3 linked regions of the Homo sapiens genome follow. The protein of the gene in region 1 interacts with the protein of each later gene in a biochemical or structural test. Each region holds a gene or a part of one and is shown on either strand. Other genes may lie near its edges. The genes, in order: MYBL2, CCNA1 and CDKN1C.

Region 1 (3,742 bases):
CATGAACCACAGTACCCAGCCTGCAGATATTTTTATAGAACGAAATATAGAGCAGTGAATGGGATGTCACTCATCATTGATGCCTCCTTGGGGCAGCTCACAAAAGTTATTTCCAATCCCCACAATTCTGCTAGGGAAGCATTACTTTCCCTTTCATACCAAGGAAGCTGAGCTAAGGGGATTCGGTCTTCCCAAAGTTACTCACTCAGCTTCTAGAACAAGCCCGTGAGTCACTACAGGTTTTCCCTCCTTTACCCAATAAATCACAACACAAACCAAAAGGCTTCTGGACACAGAGGCTTCCACTTTGGTCTTTGGGTTCTGGCTTCTGAGTGGACCCAGACACTAAAGCCGAGTTCTGGTTCCCTGGGGTAGTTCACTCCTAAGGGTGGAGGCCAGCTGGGGGGCAGGACCGACCTCAGGCCCACACCCCAATTCAGGGAGGACCCAGCACCGACAGTGTCTGGTAGACCAGAAGTACATCCTACAAGGACCACTGAAGTGGACGGAGCAGAGGAGGGAAGATGGGATTTCCACACACGCAGTAACTCCCCCAACAGGCGCTGAAGGTCATTGTGGAAAGAGCCTGAGCTCTGAGCCGGACAGCAAGGTTTAACTCCTGTTCCTGGAGGTCACCGGCTGTGTGAACCTGGCCAAGTCTCCTAACCTCTCTGAGCGTGGGGTGCTCTCACTGTTGATGAGTCCACTACCCACCTCACAGGCTGTTAAAGACCAACTAAGAGCCTACACATTAGGTAGCAAGTGATGGGCCTGGCACGCGGCAAGCACTCCAATGTTAGGTACTGTAATTACTCATTAAGCACTGGCTCCGGCAATCAGTGGGTGCTCAATACAAGCGAGCTGTGCCTGCCAAGCGATAGTAGCAGGAGCATAGCATGGCAGTCAAGACCACCAAGTATACTTGCTGTGCAACCTTGGGTACACTACTTGACCTCTCTGAGCCTCAGTTTCACCTAAAAAACAGAAATGACACACCTCACAGGATACCACGCAGACTGTATGTTAAGCTCAGACCCTGGCAGTTAGATGTTCTAGGATGGGAGACACCTGGGTGGAAAGGCGAACACGGACCCCCATACTGAACTCCCCACCCTAGTGACCAGGCCTCTGGTCTTTCACCTCCCAAAACCCGCTCTACACAGCAGGCCTGGCCGATGCAGCCAGGAGCCGGGGTGTCACACCAAGAAGCCCTCCTCAAAGGACACAACCACACAGCCAACACAGTAACCACAACACGGGCTCAATGGCTGCCCCACCCTGAGTAACCAGAACCCACTCACCACTCCAAGACCAGCACCAAGACTTGGCATTTCCTGGGCTCCTCTTCAGGGAGACCCAACCATGTGTGATGCCACAAATACCACGCTGTCCTGTGCTGTCACCTGCCAGTCAACCTTTAGGACTCAGTTCAGTGCCACCTCCTCTGGGCAGCCTTCCCACCCCGCCCTGTGCCATACATAGAGGTCAGATGCCACCACAAACTCCTGCTGCACACACCGGGAGCTCCCCAAGGATAGGGACTGCATGCTGACAACCCTGGTGTCCCCAGCCCTTGGGTCAGGGCTAGGCATTCAGCATCAAGTCAGTAACTGTTAGCAGGGCGATGGAATGAGCAAAAGGATGTGGGCCTGAGAGAGAAGCACTTCCTGCTGGGGGTGTTCTGTGCTCACTGTGAAGTGTTGTGACCAACATACCGACTCGATCAAGTCCAGGGCTTCAGAGAGGCTAGAACCCACAGCAGGGATGAGGAGGTTAGCTGCCTCCACCACCCACTTGTAAGGCAGGCTCGTTTCTGGTGGGGAGCCTTCCTGGTCCTCACGCTTCGGGAATTCCTCCAAGGGCTCTGGTGTTCGCACTGCGTCCAGATCTGTACCGATGGGCTCCTGTTCCTTCGATGTGGTGGCTGCTGCAAGTTCCTCCTCACTGTTTTCCTCCTCCTTTATGGTAGGAGGGACGGAGGGCCAGTTGGTCAGAAGACTTCCCTGTAAGACACAAGAATACACCATTTGCATTTCGCTGAGATATAGACTATATAGTAGTTTCCAGCTAAACCACACAACCTGAATCTAAGAAGGAAACTGTGATGAACCCAAATAGAGAAACATTCTACAGAATAATTAGCCATACCATATACTTCCAAAATGTCAACATCATGACACTAAGAAAGGCTGACTAAAGGGATAGGACAACTAAATGCAATGTCTGGTCTTAGACTGCATCATGGACAGGGAAAAATGGAATATAAACTGTAGATAAAGATCCTGAATTAGGCTTAAATTCCCTGGATTGAATATAACTTTATTGTGGTTATGTAAGCAAATGGCCTTATTCTTAGGAATCTATGCTACATAACTAACTCTCAAATGGCTCAGATGAAAGAAGTAATACACAGAGGTTGGGTGCAGAGGCTCACGCCTGTAATCCCAACACTTTGGGAGGTCGAGGCTGGTGGATCACCTGAGGTCAAGAGTTCGAGATCAGCCTGGCCAACATGGTGAAACCCTGTCTCTACTAAAAACAAAACAAAACAAAATTAGCCAGGTGTGGTGGCAGGCACCTGTAATCCTAGCTACTCGGGAGGCTGAGGCAGGAGAATTGCTTGAACCTGGGAGGCAGAGGTTGCAGTGAGCTGAGATCGCACCATTGCACTACAGCCTAGGTAACAAGAGCAAAACTCTGTCTCAAAAAAATTAAAAAATAAATTTTTAATGCTTAATAAACATTAAAAAATAAAAAGACCAGGTACAGTGGCTTATGCCTGTAACTCTAGCACTTTGGGAGGCTGAGGCAATTGGGTCCCTTGAGTTCCTGAATTCAAGGTTGCAATGGGCTATGATCACACCACTGCACTCCAGCCTGGGCAACACAACAAGACTCTAATAAAAAAAAAAGGGAGGGGGGAGGGGGCTGGGTGTGGCGGCTCACACCTGTAATCCCAGAACTCTGAAAAGCTCAGGCAAGAGGACCCCTTGAGTTCATGAGTTCAAGGTTGCAGTGAGCTATGATCACGCCACTGCACTACAGTCTGGGGTACAGAGCAAGACCCTGCTCATTTAAAAAAAAAAAAAAAAAAAAAATCACGCCTGTAATCCCAGCACATTGGGAGGCCGAGACGGGCGGATCACAAGGTCAGGAGGATCGAGACCATCCTGGCTAACACGGTGAAACCCCATCTCTACTAAAAATACAAAAAATTAGCCAGGTGTGGTGGCAGGCGCCTGTAGTTCCAGCTACTTGAGAGGCTGAGGCAGGAGAATGGTGTGAACCCGGAAGATGGAGCTTGCAGTGAGCCGAGACTGCGCCACTGCACTCCAGCCTGGGCTACAGAACGAGACTCTGTCTCAAAAAAAAAAAAAAAAAAAAAAAAAAAAAAAAAAAAAAAAAAAATATGCGGGGCGTGGTGGCTCACACCTGTAATCCCAACACTTTGGGAGGCCAAGGCAGACAGATCCCTTGAGCCCAGGAGTTCGAGACCAGCCTGGGCAAACCCCATCTCTATAAAACAAACGAACAAACAAAAAGTGAATTTTATTGTATGTAAATTATACCTTTATAAAATAAAGAAAAAAAGCTACCAAACTGGGAAAAAATAGTTACTACATGATAAAGGAGTAGCATCCTTAATATACAAATAAAATGTACAAACCAGTAACAAGATAAAAAAAAAAAAAAAAAAAGACAACCAAGCCAAATAACAAATTAACAAATTAAGGGGTAATTT
Region 2 (3,742 bases), on another chromosome or scaffold:
TTCTACCATAGCTTTCTTTTGGCAGAGGCTTAAACCTTTCAGATTTTCTCACTTATGAAATAGGAAAGGTATAGTTTTCAGTCTGGTTAAGGTATCTATGATCAGTTAAGTTCACACAACTAATATCTGAGGGACCATTACCTGTTAGCATAGCTGCTTAGTCAGTACTGGGAAGATGTCTGCCTTCAAAGCACCCATTTTGGAGTAATCTAATCTAGCCTGATCTAATCCTGATTTTAACACTATCCGCAATGAACACAGCCAAGATTATCCAGGTTTGCTTTAGGCACAGCCTGCATCAATGTGAACACTGCTCTAACCTGGAGGAACCCCAGTTCCACAGTTTATTTGGAAGCATTCACATTTCCTTTTAGCCCAGCCCTTAAATTACTTTAATATACATAACCCAAACAGTTCCTAGACCTATTTCCTTGATAGTGGAAAAAATAACAAAGAAAACTAATCACTATTTCTAGCTGAAAACCGAACCCCTCAAGGTGATCTTAAGAAATCAACTGGCCTGCCACCGTGGCTGACGCCTGTAATCCCAACACTTTGGGAGGCCGAGGTGGGCGGGTCACCTGAGGTCAGGAGTTGGTGACCAGCCTGGCCAACATGGTGAAATCCCATCTCTACTAAAAACACAAAAATTAGCCGGGCGTGGTGGTGGGTGCCTGAAATCCCAGCTACTCGGGAGGCTGAGGCAGGAGAATCGCTTGAACCCGGGAGGTGGAGGTTGCAGTGAGCCGAGATCGCGTCACTGCACTCCAGCCTGGCGACAAGAGCGAAACTCCGTCTCAAAAAAAAAAAAAGAAGGAAAGGAAAGGAAAGAAAAAAAAAGGAAAGGAAGAAGGAAGAGAAACAAAGAAAAAGAAAGAAGGAAAGAAAGAGAAAGAAAAGAAAGAAAGAAAGAACGAAAGAAAGAAAGAAAGAAAGAAAGAAAGAAAGAAAGAAAGAAAGAAAGAAAGAAAGAAAGAAAGAAAGAAAATAAATCAATCAACTTTCCTGTAGTCCAGATTCCAGGGTTGTAATACTCAGGGGGAGTTGTAGGTACAAGGGCAAGAGAAAAGCACCTGGCACCAAAGCAGGAGAGCTGTTCTCCACAAGCATCATTCTCAATGCGTCTGAGTCATTACCTGGCCACAGGTCCTCCTGTACTGCCCATTTGCAGTTAGCAGCCCTAGCACTGTCCTCTGCGGGGGATCCTGGCCCAGCGGGGCTCTGGTGAGTATCTGACAAGCATCGGGACCTCGGGCCACTGTAGCCAGCACAACTCCACTCTTGGGGTTGCTGCAGTGCATTGCTTCAGACTCCACGGGCTGCTGCTACCAGGGAAAGAGAAACAGACAAGCTGTTTAGTCGATTCCGTCCACCCCGGGCTCCAAGGACACAGCGAACCTCTAGGAGGGAGAGCACCAAGCAATGGGACTAACACCAATTGCTGATCTTCCCAGTAATTATTGGGGCTGAAAGGGCAGGTGCGACCGCACAGGCGATCAAAGTTGCTCTGAATCAAAACAGTTATTTGAATCCCTGAGGGAGGCTTTTTATCCCAAGACTTCGTGTTGGGCTGGAAGGAGAGAAACATTCTGACAAGCCTCCAAGTCGGGATACTAAACCCACGTTACCTGGAAGACGAAATCTGGGAGCCCCGGTCCTTCCCAGCTGAGATACTCTTCTCCCCAGCCCCCAATAAAAGATCCAGGGTACATGATTGCGGGAAAGCCGGTCTCCATCCCAAGTGACGAGCAGGGTGCTGCGCTGCGGCCTCCTCCCACCAGACAGGAGGCCCCAAAACCTGCCTGGACCCCAAAGCGGGCCCCGCTCTTCCCGTCGTTATCTTTCTATGTGTCCGGAACAACTGGCAAGTGCACTGGAGGATCGCGGTTAAGAGGTGGCCGGCTGGGCGGGGCAGGGCGGGGCAGGGTTGGGCAGGGCCGGGCCGGGCCGGGCGGGGCAGGGCGGGGAAGGGCAGGGAAGGGCAGGGCACGGAAGGGCGGGGCGGGAAGGACCAAGTGTCGAGGGATTCCAGCCTGGGAGGCGGCCGGGCTTAGCGATGCGGCTGAGCTGCCCACCCGCGTCTGTTGAATCGGCCAATCAGCGGCGCCCCCGGACCTAGCGGGAGCGTTTCCATGCCGACCGCGGCAGGCGTGCGCTCTCCGGGGCCGCATCGCCATGGCGACCTGCTCACCTGACTCGCTCCGGGTGGACTCGCCGCGACCCCTGGGCGTTCAGGCCCCTGAGGGCCCAACGGGCGACGGCCCTCCAGCTCCAGCTGTGCGTCTCCGCCCGGGCGAGGTGGGGCTGACCGCGGCCGTCTGCACACGTCCCCTCTGGTCCGCGCCCCCGGCCTGGGAGGGCGGACTCGCCCACCCCACGATGGCCCCGGCTTTGGAAGGGACTGTTTCCGTGACCCGTTCTCCCAACAGCCGCTAACAACCCCCTCTAACGTCTCCTGCGCGGCCCGCTCCTGAGAACCCTGGCTCGGGAGAGCGACGCGGGGTCCTCGGGGCTGCGCAGGCTGCGGCGCCCTGCCCACGCTGGCCCGAGGGCGCGGCTCGCTCCGGGTCGGCTCACACACCTACGCTTCCTGCCGGGAGGCGGCTGGGACGCGGCGGGGCTGCCCCAAGTGCAGTCGCGGCAGTGTTGCGTCTCCATCGCGGGGGTCCTTGCGGGCCGCGCCTGCCCCGCCCGGCTCCCGGTGCATGTGGCCTGCGAGGCGGCAGAGGAGATGTGGGGATTTAGGGTCGCACGTCGTGCTCGAGGTCCCCACGAGAGGTCTTCCCCCGCGGGCTCCTGCGCAACTGCGTGAAGCCGGCCCGGGAAAGCCAAGATTGTGGCCCAGGAAGAGGAAGGAACGCGGGCGACAGAGCTGGGGCTTGGGACGTTGAGGGGGTCGGTGGCAGCTCTCCGGGCTGGGGGCCGGGCGGGCGGCCCGGCCGCGTGGGGAGAGGAGTCCCTGGGGTCCTTATACGGGGGGCTCCTGGAAACCCGGGGGCTCAGACGCCTGCATAGGTGACTGACAAGCCAGGTGAAATAATCGAACTTTATTTTTTTAAAAATAATATGTATATATGCACACACACATTACCAATGCTATAGTCTGTTACTACTTTTGCTTTTTTTAAAACATCCATCCCTAAATCTCTAAATCAGATCCAAAGTCTATTCAAATGGCCACTTTATGCAAGCAACGGTTATCACCGTTTTTCTAAGTGTGCGTTATTAACATTTTCACCAAGCAAACTGAGTGTGGACATTGCTTTAATGGGAAGATAGTAGTATTCTAACAAAAGCGCCGGTTGAAAGCCTTGCAGTTGAGGTAAATATTAAGAAGTTGGTAAGCATCTGGAGAATCAAGGCTGGATGAGGGAGGAACGCAGAAACGGATCTTGTTCAACATGAAACTCATTTCTATACGTTTGTCACAGACTTCTATTCCTTGAGAGACAGCAGTCCGCTTGCACCCCAGATTTCCTGTGCCTTTGAATATGAAGGAAACACGGGAATTCTGGTAACATCTAGATTGCCGCAACAGAGAGTCAGAGGCCAACGGGGACCAAATGCTCTGCTTCGAAAGGTGAATGAAAGGAGCATTTCTGTCCTCTTGCCTGACGCCACTATTGGATATCTTCCCGGGCGCCCTCCCCCACCTGCCAACAGTGTTGTTATTTCCTGGGTCGCTGAAGGACTCAGTGGCTAACTCCGTCTGGGACTCTACAGCAAGTCCTGCCAAGAGCCT
Region 3 (3,742 bases), on another chromosome or scaffold:
AGCAGACTAGACTTTGCCTCTTTCTGCCCCCAGGCCAGTTGATATGAGCCCTGCTTGAGGGGTTCGCAGGGCCTGGGGAGCCTTCTTCAGCTTCTCTTTGTTTTCCTAAGATGAAAATTGTGACATCTGGGCTTGTTGCGGGAAATTTGTAAATTGTGCACAGAGAAGAATATGAAATTGCACATAAATCATGGCTTTTGGTTCCACCATCAAGAGCCAAGAATGGCCCTGGCCCCTCTCCTGGGTTAACGCCCTGTCCCATCCAGTTCACCCCCCTCACTTCAGATCTCGCTTCCCTGAGACCCAGAAGACCCGCCCTGCTCCCCCAGCTGCAGCTGCACACTGCCACAGCATTCCATGGGGGTGGGGGTGTCTTGGGACTCAAAGGCAGGCTGGTTGGGGTTCAGGGGACCGCACCTTCCCTCCCTCCCAGAGGTCTCTCTGCTGGCTCACAGGCTCACCTGAGATAGGGGCTTAGATCTCATGGGCTGCTGGACCCTCCAACAGGTGTCTGACAGTCCCCATCCCGATCTGGGAGGCTCCTGGTTTGAGGAGGGGGCTCCCTGCCTCATGGTAGGTGGGCCAAAAGGGAGGCAGCAGGAAATAATGGTCTCTTTTGGTCTGGCCTGGCTGGGGTGAAGCACCGTGTGTGTGCGTGCGTGTGTGTGTGTGTGTGTGTGTGCGTGCGCGCACGACCGAGGTCTGTACCAGGAAGGGCTGCAGGCGGGGGAGGGGCATGGTCCTTCACAGCCCCTTCCCCTATGACCTCGGGCAGATCTTTCACTTTTACCCAGTACAACAGCTTCCAGCCAGCCTGGACAGGCAGATCCCGGGGCTGGAGTGGTCTGGCCCAAGGCTGAGAAGGGCTGGGACCCCCGACAGTGACATGATGGGCTCAGCCCCTGTTCCATCTACTGGGCAGGGTGGGCCTCCGCAGATAGCGGCTTCAGACTCCAGCTCCAGGGGGCTGGTGGGAGTCTCTCAAGGTGTCCCACACATGGTCCCTCGGGGAAAGAGTGGAGCTGACCCCTGTCCCCCCTCCCGACTCGAGGGCCTTAGGGCCAGCAGGTGTGTGAGGGCTCCAGGCGCGCGGAGCCCTCGAAGGGACACCAGCCCAGCAGCAGCAGGCCGCGCGGGGGCAGCCGAAGACCCCATCCGGCGCAGGCCAGGGCCGAGCTGGCAGCGGCGGGTCCAAGCCTCGTCAGCTGGCGCAGGAGGCCCACGGGCGAGCGCGGGACGGAGCTGGGCGCCGGGGTCCGGACCGGGCCGGGGTCGAGTTGGGCCTGGCCGGACACCGGACCCGCCAGGAGCCGGCCCCTGCCGCGCTGGGCTGAGGCCCCCGCCTGCAGACAAAGGAGCCGGCGGGGGGCGGGAGCCGGGGGGGTGGGGGAGTGTTGCAGGGGGGATGGGGCGAGGGGGCGGGCGTCGCGGTGTCACGTTACCGCCCGCAGCGCCCTTTAACTCCCGCCCCCGCCCCGCTCACCGCCCCCTTCCCCTGCTACAGCGCGCTCGCCCCGCGGCCGCCAATCAGCCGCGCGCCCCGGCCGCGCGCCCCGCCCCGCCCCCGGTGGGTGTGCGCGCGGCCAATGGGCGGTGCGCGGGGGCCGGGCCGCGGCGGGGCGGGGCAGCGGGGCGGCCGCCAATCGCCGTGGTGTTGTTGAAACTGAAAATACTACATTATGCTAATCGCGGCCGGGCCCGCGCGCACGGGGGTGGGGCCCGCGCGTATAAAGGGGGCGCAGGCGGGCTGGGCGTTCCACAGGCCAAGTGCGCTGTGCTCGAGGGGTGCCGGCCAGGCCTGAGCGAGCGAGCTAGCCAGCAGGCATCGAGGGGGCGCGGCTGCCGTCCGGACGAGACAGGCGAACCCGACGCAGAAGAGTCCACCACCGGACAGCCAGGTAGCCGCCGCGTCCCTCGCACACGCAGAGTCGGGCGGCGCGGGGTCTCCCTTGCGCCCGGCCTCCGCCCTCTCCTCCTCTCCTTTCCCCTTCTTCTCGCTGTCCTCTCCTCTCTCGCTGCCCGCGTTTGCGCAGCCCCGGGCCATGTCCGACGCGTCCCTCCGCAGCACATCCACGATGGAGCGTCTTGTCGCCCGTGGGACCTTCCCAGTACTAGTGCGCACCAGCGCCTGCCGCAGCCTCTTCGGGCCGGTGGACCACGAGGAGCTGAGCCGCGAGCTGCAGGCCCGCCTGGCCGAGCTGAACGCCGAGGACCAGAACCGCTGGGATTACGACTTCCAGCAGGACATGCCGCTGCGGGGCCCTGGACGCCTGCAGTGGACCGAAGTGGACAGCGACTCGGTGCCCGCGTTCTACCGCGAGACGGTGCAGGTGGGGCGCTGCCGCCTGCTGCTGGCGCCGCGGCCCGTCGCGGTCGCGGTGGCTGTCAGCCCGCCCCTCGAGCCGGCCGCTGAGTCCCTCGACGGCCTCGAGGAGGCGCCGGAGCAGCTGCCTAGTGTCCCGGTCCCGGCCCCGGCGTCCACCCCGCCCCCAGTCCCGGTCCTGGCTCCAGCCCCGGCCCCGGCTCCGGCTCCGGTCGCGGCTCCGGTCGCGGCTCCGGTCGCGGTCGCGGTCCTGGCCCCGGCCCCGGCCCCGGCTCCGGCTCCGGCTCCGGCCCCGGCTCCAGTCGCGGCCCCGGCCCCAGCCCCGGCCCCGGCCCCGGCCCCGGCCCCCGCCCCGGCCCCGGCCCCGGACGCGGCGCCTCAAGAGAGCGCCGAGCAGGGCGCGAACCAGGGGCAGCGCGGCCAGGAGCCTCTCGCTGACCAGCTGCACTCGGGGATTTCGGGACGTCCCGCGGCCGGCACCGCGGCCGCCAGCGCCAACGGCGCGGCGATCAAGAAGCTGTCCGGGCCTCTGATCTCCGGTGAGCCCCGCACGGCCCCGCCCCGGCCCGGCCCGGCCCCGCTTTGTCCGGCCGGCCGGTCCCCCCAGCCCTCGGGGGCCTCGCTGGGTTCCCGCCTCCTCCCGTGGCATTAAAGGGCCCGCAGCGCTCAGGGCGCGGCTGCGCCCTTACCCCCCTCCCCGCCCCGTTGTTGTGCCCTCCAGCGGCTTCGCGCGGGCGGGGTGGGAGGCTGAATCCCGGCCGCGACCCCCCGGGAGCGCAGTTTTCGCCCCCGGCCGCGGGAGCCCCTCCCCGGGCGCGGCCGGGCGCCGTGAGCACGGCGTGGAGGGGGTTAAGCGCGGCGGCGGCCCCGGGGGGCTTGGCCGCGGGACAAGGGGAAATGCTTACACAGCACATTGCGCGGCGACGTAAACAAAGCTGACCCGCCGCGGACCTCGGCGCGGGCGGGGACGGCGCCCCCACCCCGGCCGGCCCGCGCCCCGCGCCCTCTCCCGGCCCCCTCTCGGGTCTCCGGGCCGGCCCCGCCCTGACCGGCCGCGCGCGCTGTCGCCCGCAGATTTCTTCGCCAAGCGCAAGAGATCAGCGCCTGAGAAGTCGTCGGGCGATGTCCCCGCGCCGTGTCCCTCTCCAAGCGCCGCCCCTGGCGTGGGCTCGGTGGAGCAGACCCCGCGCAAGAGGCTGCGGTGAGCCAAGTGAGTACAGCGCACCTGGGGGGGCGCGGAGGGCCGACCCGCCGGGTCCCCGCCGGCTTTGCTGACCGCCCCTCTCCTCGCAGTTTAGAGCCCAAAGAGCCCCGAGGGAACCTGCCGGGGCAGCGGACGTTGGAAGGGCGCTGGGCCTCGGCTGGGACCGTTCATGTAGCAGCAACCGGCGGCGGCTGCCGCAGAGCAGCGTTCGGTTT

Evidence for each region.
Region 2: the proteins of MYBL2 (region 1) and CCNA1 form a complex in vitro, tested with the Homo sapiens proteins (2 studies listed by BioGRID, with this or other methods).
Region 3: the proteins of MYBL2 (region 1) and CDKN1C form a complex in vitro, tested with the Homo sapiens proteins (one study listed by BioGRID).

Annotation. Positions count from the first base shown.
Region 1 is NC_000020.11:43,698,018-43,701,759, reverse strand, and holds part of MYBL2 (myb-related protein B), read right to left. Parts: intron 2,004-3,742; coding exon 1,716-2,003; intron 1-1,715. UniProt on the Homo sapiens protein: Transcription factor involved in the regulation of cell survival, proliferation, and differentiation. Transactivates the expression of the CLU gene.
Region 2 is NC_000013.11:36,430,616-36,434,357, reverse strand, and holds the start of CCNA1 (cyclin-A1), read right to left. Parts: upstream 1,864-3,742; 5' UTR 1,629-1,863; intron 1,326-1,628; 5' UTR 1,302-1,325; coding exon 1,137-1,301; intron 1-1,136. UniProt on the Homo sapiens protein: May be involved in the control of the cell cycle at the G1/S (start) and G2/M (mitosis) transitions. May primarily function in the control of the germline meiotic cell cycle and additionally in the control of mitotic cell cycle in some somatic cells.
Region 3 is NC_000011.10:2,883,790-2,887,531, reverse strand, and holds the start of CDKN1C (cyclin-dependent kinase inhibitor 1C), read left to right. Parts: upstream 1-1,756; 5' UTR 1,757-1,898; exon of another isoform or gene 1,899-2,042; coding exon of another isoform or gene 2,043-2,075; coding exon 2,076-2,862; intron 2,863-3,397; coding exon 3,398-3,528; coding exon of another isoform or gene 3,529-3,533; intron 3,534-3,616; 3' UTR 3,617-3,621; coding exon of another isoform or gene 3,622-3,742. UniProt on the Homo sapiens protein: Potent tight-binding inhibitor of several G1 cyclin/CDK complexes (cyclin E-CDK2, cyclin D2-CDK4, and cyclin A-CDK2) and, to lesser extent, of the mitotic cyclin B-CDC2. Negative regulator of cell proliferation.